Linked DNA regions of Homo sapiens. The protein of the gene in region 1 interacts with the protein of each later gene in a pairwise test. Each region holds a gene or a part of one and is shown on either strand. Other genes may lie near its edges.

What was found. The genes of interacting proteins can lie anywhere in the genome.
Region 2: the proteins of E2F3 (region 1) and SPIB interact in a two-hybrid assay, tested with the Homo sapiens proteins (one study listed by BioGRID).

Annotation. Positions count from the first base shown.
Region 1 is NC_000006.12:20,404,772-20,408,525, reverse strand, and holds part of E2F3 (transcription factor E2F3), read right to left. Parts: intron 1-3,754.
Region 2 is NC_000019.10:50,421,919-50,425,672, reverse strand, and holds part of SPIB (transcription factor Spi-B), read right to left. Parts: intron 3,201-3,754; coding exon 3,128-3,200; intron 2,851-3,127; coding exon 2,636-2,850; intron 2,069-2,635; coding exon 1,918-2,068; intron 1-1,917. UniProt on the Homo sapiens protein: Sequence specific transcriptional activator which binds to the PU-box, a purine-rich DNA sequence (5'-GAGGAA-3') that can act as a lymphoid-specific enhancer.

The DNA of each region.
Region 1 (3,754 bases):
TATATTGTAGACAAATATGGTGGCCATAAGACTGACCCCCAGTTAAGGTTGGGGAAAGAACGTACATTCCTTGAATTCCAAAAACACATTGCTTTTAGAGGAGAGGGTTTGAAACAAGTGTGAACAGAATATAAACCAATTTCCCTCTTATTGAAATAGAAACTCGGTATGTTATCCCTCTATAATAATCCCCACTCTGTAAGTTTCCTGTCCCCAAAGGCAGTTGTTGCTTTTTAGTACCTTCTGTGGTATAACTTTTCTTTGTGAAAGATACATTTTCCTCGTCACTTTCTGAAGCCAAAGAGAGGGTCAGGGTAGGAAGAAGGAGACACTATTAGTGGTTTCCTATATTTACTGCTTTCCCAGTTATCTTCCATTGTTAAGTCCCATGAACAATGATTAGTAGAAAAAATGCTTTTTAGCAATCGTGAATACAGTCTCTGAAACATTATTTTTAAACTGCTAACAAGAATGAAAATATGCATTAAACCACGTACTTAGTACCTCAAAGAATTCAGGGAAGATTCCCCTTTTTAAAAAACAAAATTGTGAAATCTACCTTCTTTACCTTGCTTTCACCACGTTTTACCTTGCTTTTACCACCTTTCAGGTGGCTTCATGGGAATTTATCAGGGATCTGGTGAGCATAGGCAATTGATTTTGACTCATCCTAGTTACAGCTGTTAGTAGGAAGTAGATGACTAAAAGGGAATTGAAGTTGGCTAGCTTGGGAAAGTAGATGTAAACTGGTCCTACAAATGGAATATTTGTAAAATCAGGTTAACTTAGGAAAACCAGCCAGAAAATTAACTATGAGTACTTGAAGCTATTTGCCAAATGGGTCCAAATCCCTAGGAAAGAGGTTAAAGGTATGGATGATATATCTTTGCAGATGGCATTAAAGACAGAAGAGTTAAAGGAAAACTACTGCTTTATATATTTCTGAGAAACCACAATAAAAGCTTTCACCCCGTCTGTCAATCTCCAGGTAATGTTATTTATGCACGTCTAGGCTTAGAGTATTATTTTCTGTTTTCAAGTTAGCTTTACACAGTATAACATTAATCTCAGAATCCATTCTTCCAAGTAATACACAAGGTGGCGATTTATAGAAAAACAAAAAATCCTTTCCTGTTCACAAGGTGGAGTTCTTCAGCCCACAGTGCCATATTTAAGGGTGCTTTGTTTCAGAGGATGATTAGAGTGGCGCCCTTGGTACTGATTATAGTGGAGCTACCTGTAGTGCCCAAGTCTGGGCACTGCATTATATTAAAACTTCCATTTTGGGGTATGTAGTGACTAAAAATTGTCTCCCAGCTTAAACTTGGCATCAACCATATATCTCAGCAGAAGCAAGATTATTGAGTATAGAACCACAGGAACCCGGCACTTTTCTTTTTATAATTGTACAGGAAAAGAGACCCTGCTGAAATAGCACCTATGGTTCTCCATTCTTAGATGAAAATTTCAAGCACTGAGGGCTCTTTCCCAAAGTAGAATCAGTAGGTTGCTATGACTGTGACAGGACATAGTCTCTTACATTATTAAATCCCAAATTTTCTAGAATAAAATAATTTCAGCTTCTTTTTAGAAGCAGCAGCAGAAAATGATGAAGCCTTGTCTGCTCCATTGAGTAGCACTTCTGACTATGGTTTCTCTGGAGTTCTTACATTTCCAACAGTTCACCAACTAAGATGGAATTTGTCTAATGCATGTCTCTGACATGGTGAAGATTGAGAGTTCAGGTCTAACAAAAGCCGCTAAGCATAAACTGCACCCAAAAGTTGGCAGGTCTGTGGAATCATGGACGGAGTGGAACTCAGGCAAAAAAGTGAGGATGATGTGGCCTTGAATTGTCACAATTCAAGGCATATGCTTGGCAGTTCAACACCACTATCTCTATATAGGCGTGTCTTACTGAAATGTCCCTATTTTACCCCTAGGATGGCCATGTTTTATATATTTAAAAGCCCAAATTAATTGGGCATAAATAATTAATTACAGATCACTTAAAGACTTTTAACAGTTCTCTTCATATATGTAAACAAAGGGACAATGTGCACCTGGCCTTACACTATTTCACTAAGTCAGAAAAAAATTAACATTTGTATAATAAATATGAATTGTACTGGGTGTCTACTTTTTGCCAGGCACTGTGCTAAATAGTTCACATGCATTATCATATTTAACTCTTCAAAAGAACCTTAAAGGTGACACTGTTTTTGTCCCTATGTTACAGAGGAAGAAACTGAGTTGAGAGATTAAGTTATTTGCCAATGAACATACAATTTGTAAATAATAGATGCTTTACAGCTGGTAAGGTAGTACTCATATTTTTACCCCCATTGAAAAAAAGGTGAAGAAGTTGCTTCTGGTTAAGTCCTTAGATATTCTTGAGACAGAACTTGGGATCAGAACCAGATAGGTCTGCAACTCTGGCCACCTGAAGACTTTTCAACCTCTTCTTGGACACAGAGTGTTTAGGTGGTCTTTGTTCAGCCAATCACTTAGCTTTCCCCATCCTGTCTTTCCTGCTTAGGGAAAGAATATCAACAAAATTCAAAATTCGAAGACTTACATGGAAGTCTAATATAATTTCGATAAGAAAAACAATAAATCAAACTTTATATTCAGTGCTTAAGACTTTGTATGCATTGACTAGATAAATTTCCTACACCCTCCCAGAAGAAACAGCTCCTTTTTTGAGACGGAATCTCGCTCTGCCGCCAGGCTAGAGTGCAGTGGCGGGATCTCAGCTCACTGCAACCTCCGCTTCCCAGGGTCAAGCGATTTTCCTGCCTCAGCCTCCTGAGTAGCTGGGATTACAGGCGCGCACCACCACACCCAGCTAATTTTTGTATTTTTAGTAGAGACGGGGTTTCACCATGTTGGCCAGGATGGTCTGGATCTCTTGACCGCGTGATCCGCCCCCCTCGGCTTCCCAAAGTACCGGGATTACAGGCATGAGCCACAGCGCCCGGCCAGTAGAAATAGCTCTTAAAAGTGTAGATAACCGGCCAGGCGTGGTGGCTCACGCCTGTAATCTCAGCTACTCAGGAGGCTGAGGCAGGAGAATGCTTGAACTCGGGAGGCGGAGGTTGCAGTGAGCCGAGATCGTGCCATTGCACTCCAGCCTGGGCGACAGAATGAGACTCCGTCTCAAAAAAAAAAAAAAAAAAAATGCAGATAACCAATGATTCAGCATACATTGCAATCATATAAAAAATGCTTCTGAATATGTATATGAGTAACATTTATATTCCTGTAATGAAAAACCTTTTGTGTGCACATAAACTCAAAAGGATATTATTATTCCTGGAATAATAATTTCATGTCAAGGAGAATAAAGTTTTGAAATAACTTGGAAGATGGTGAGGGTAATTTAGTATACTTTAAATACTTAAATACAATGAACTAGATATAATAAACCTGGCTTGAAAGATAGTCTTAGGGACCTGGCCCAACAAACACTGTTAAAATTTTTTAAAAATCAACTTGAAGCTCTCATAATTTCCCATTATCAAAACTACCCCCTGCAAATCTGTGAATCTAATCCAAGAAGTATGTCAATAGCTGGTTGTTTAAGGTTAGGTTTATGAAATAGTAACAGAACTGTGCAGGGGTCAAATATGCTTAAAATATGTCCAAACATGCTTAGGTCAAGTCAGTAAGAGTATCTGAAGCTAATAAAAGCATGGAATATTCTTGCGACTGAAAACCCAGCACACCGGATACTGCTATGTCTAAGCAGGTA
Region 2 (3,754 bases), on another chromosome or scaffold:
CTCAGGAGTTGGGAGTTCAGCCTGGGCAACATAGCGAGACCTCACCTCTACAAAAATTTTAAAAATTAGTCAGGTGTGGTGGTGTACGCCTGTGGTCCTAGCTACTCAGGAGGCTGAGGCAGGAGGATCGATTGAGCCCAGGAGTTTGAGGCAGTAGTGAGCCGAGATTGCGCCACTGCGCTTCAGCCTGGGTGACAGATGGAGACCGTCTCAAATAAATGAATAAAAATAAATAAAATCTTTATTTCCATCTTGTGTCTTTCCTAGTCATTGGAGAGATCCTCTCCATCTTAAATGTCCTAAGTTAAAATAGGTGACTTAATTAACCTCTCTGAGCTGAAGTCTCTCAGCCACAAATGAGGCTGTGTGGCTGGGCACAGTGGCTCACGCCTGTAATCCCAGCACTTTGTGAGGCCGAGACGGGCGGATCACCTGAGGTCAGGAGTTTGAGACCAGCCTGGCCAGATGGTGAAACCCCATCTCTACTAAAAATACAAAAAATAGCTGGGTATGGTGTGGGTGCCTGTGATCCCAGCTACTGCGGAGGCTGAGGCAGGAGGATTGCTTGAACCCAGAAGGTGGAGGTTGCAGTGGGCCGAGATCGTGCCACTGCACTCCAGCCTGGGTAACAGAGCGAGACTCTGTCTCAAAAAATAAATTAATTAATTAATTAAAATTTTTTAAATGAGGCTGTGGTTTTGTTTGTTTGTTTTTGAGACGGAGTCTTGCTCTGTCACCCAGGCTGGAGTCCAGTGGTGCAATCTCAGCTCACTGCAACCTTTGCCTCCTGGGTTCCAGCAACTCTCCTGCCTCAGCCTCCTGAGTAGCTGGGATTACAGGCATGTACCACCATGCCCCATTAATTTTTTTTTCTTTCTTTTTTCTTTTTTTTTAAGACAGAGTCTTACTCTGTCGCCAGGCTGGACTGCAGTGGCAAGATCTCGGCTTACTGCAACCTCTGCCTCCTGGGTTCAAGCGATTCTTCTGCCTCAGCCTCCCGAGTAGCTGGGACTACAGGTGCACACCACCACGCCTAGCTAATTTTTGTATTTTTAGTAAATGTGAGGTTTCACCATGTTGGCCAGGATGGTCTCGATCTCTTGACCTCGTGATCCATCCTCCTCAGCCTCTCAAAGTGCTGGGATTAAAGGCATGAGCCACCATGCCCAGCCTAATTTTTGTGTTTTTAGTAGAGACGGGGTTTTGCCATGTTGGCCAGGCTGGTCTCGAACTCCTGACCTCAGTTGATCTGACCGCCTCAGCCTCCCAAAGTGCTGGGATTACAGGCGTGAGCCACCACACCCAGCCTGTGTGTTGATTTTTACAATGCACCGTGGAGCATGTAGTGCCAGGTGCTTCACAAGGCACTTTACAGTTATGAGCTCATTGAATCTCCATCATAACCCCGTGAGATGGGGAGGATGACAGTGATGCCCACTTTACAGACGAGAAACCGAGGCCCAGACACAGAAAGGAAGGAACGATCTCAGCTTTCTTGGGGTTGAGCATAAAGGATGTTGGGCACACGGGCAGGGGGCAAGGGTTGAACCGTTGGGGGTTGATAGCATTATCATTTCTGTTGCTGTGGTGTCGGGAATGATGGTGAAGAGGTTGACTTATTGAAGTGCTCACTCTGTGCCTGGCACTGCTGTCCCATTTACACTTACTATCCCATTTAGTCCCCCCAACGACCTCAGGAGGGTAGACACTATCACCTCCATCCCCATCGCACAGACAGGAAACCTGGGCACAGAGAGGTAGAGGCACTTACCCAAGGTCACACAGCCAGCAGGTGGTGCGGATCTGGGAGCTGCCCAGAGTGCTGGAGTATATGTAGAGGCCCAGGAAGCCATGGTGCTCTCAGCCCCCCCACCATCTCCAGCTGGCATCTCCCCCACCCCAGCCACTCCCGCATACCTGCCTCGGATCCCTTCCCCTCGGGGCCAGCCACGAGGGCCTCATCCGACTCGCTGTCCGAGACCTCCAGGGCAGGGCTGTCCAACGGTAAGTCTTCCTCCTCTGATAGCACAGGGCTGGGGTACGGGGCATATGCCGGGGGAACCAGGGTCTGCGGAAGGTCAGGGTCACCTGCATGTCCAGGGACCCCTTGTCTCCCTCCACTTCCTCCTCTCAGGCCAAGGCGGTGGCCCTCCTGGCTCTGGTCTCCCTCTTTGTTGACAGCCTAGATTTTGGCCTTTGTTCAGATCACCACGCTGTGGCCAGGGGACACCTGAGGTACCTCCTCAAAGCCGGCCCAACACAGGTAATGCGAGTCTGCCCTGTCCCTGGCTTCCTGTCACTACCTCTCTTGACTCACTTGTTCAGAGGGGCAACAACGGAACGTAACCTGGGAGGCCGCTGCAGGGCTTACTATGTGCAGTCTCAATGCAGTGCCCGGCACCCAGCAAACCTCAACCAAATGACTGAGCTTGAGTTTTCTTTTCTTTTTCTTTTTTTTTTTTTTTTTTGAGACAGGGTCTTGCTCTGTTGCCCAGACTGGAGTGCAGTGGATTGCCTCGACCTTCTGGGCTCAAGCAATCCTCCTCCCACCTCAGCCTCTCAAGCAGCTGGGATTACAGGCGTGCACCACCACACCTGGTTTGGGCTTGATTTTAACTGTCCCCTTACCACTCACCTGGCTAGCGAAGTTCTCCGTGGGGTATGCAGGGAGGCCAGGCCCCGGGGCCTCCAGGCTGGGGGCCAGTTCGAGGTTCCCTGCAGGGCTGTAGGTGGGGGGTTCGTAGCAGAGCTGGGCAGCCTGGGGGTGGCTAAAAGCGGCTGCTGCCGGGTCGAAGGCTTCATAGGGGGTGGCTGGGACAGGTGGGGCCACAGTCCAGTCCCACAGGGAGTCTGGGGGAAGGGCACTGAGTCAGAAGCTGGGATGTCTCACGGAGGCCTCCTCGCAGTCGAAGCCCCCAGCACAGAGAGGCCATTGTAGGCTGTGCAAATCTCTGACCCCAGGATTTGCATGGAGGAGCGGATGGGTAGGAGAGGAAAGGGGAGGAGGGCTATAGGCCCGGGCCACCTTTATCCTGTTGTGCTAGGAAATGACCTCCCCTGGGCCTCAGCTCCCCTATCTGTGAAATGGGCCCCAAGGCAGGAAGGGCACAGGGCTGGGGTCACTCACCAGGAGCCCCCTCTGAATCAGGGTAGCTGGAATGCTTGCAGCTGTCCAGGTCATAGAAGACGCCATCTGGGTACTGATACGGGGTGCAGGAGGGAAGAGGGGTCATCCCAGGCCTTGGGGACTCCCAACCCCCACCCTGGACCCTTGGGGAGACTCCAACACAGACATGGGAGAGAAGAGGGGATGCTGGAGAGATTAGAGCAACAAAGAAACACAGAGACTAGGCATCAGAGACAGGGACAAAGAGACAGAGATACAGAGAGTAGAGACACAACCCAATAGGGGCACACAGCAGCCAGCTCCTGCTAAGACGGTGGGCTCCCAAGAACCCTGGCCCCTCACTGGCACACAGTCAGCGAATCAGGGCGCCTGGAGAAGGGGTGGAAGAACTCCCCCAGCCTTGCCTGCCTGGGGGCTCCGGAGGTGAAGGGCAAGGGGAAATGGAAGTGTTTCACTTAACAGAGGCAGGGGTCAATGCTTTTTAAATACACCTCCAGGCCAGGCGTGGTGGCTCACGCCTGTCATCCCAACACTTTGGGGGGCCGAGGCGGGCAGATCACCTGAGGTCAGGAGTTCAAGACCAGTCTAGCCAACATGGTGAAATCCCGTCTCTACTAAAAATACAAA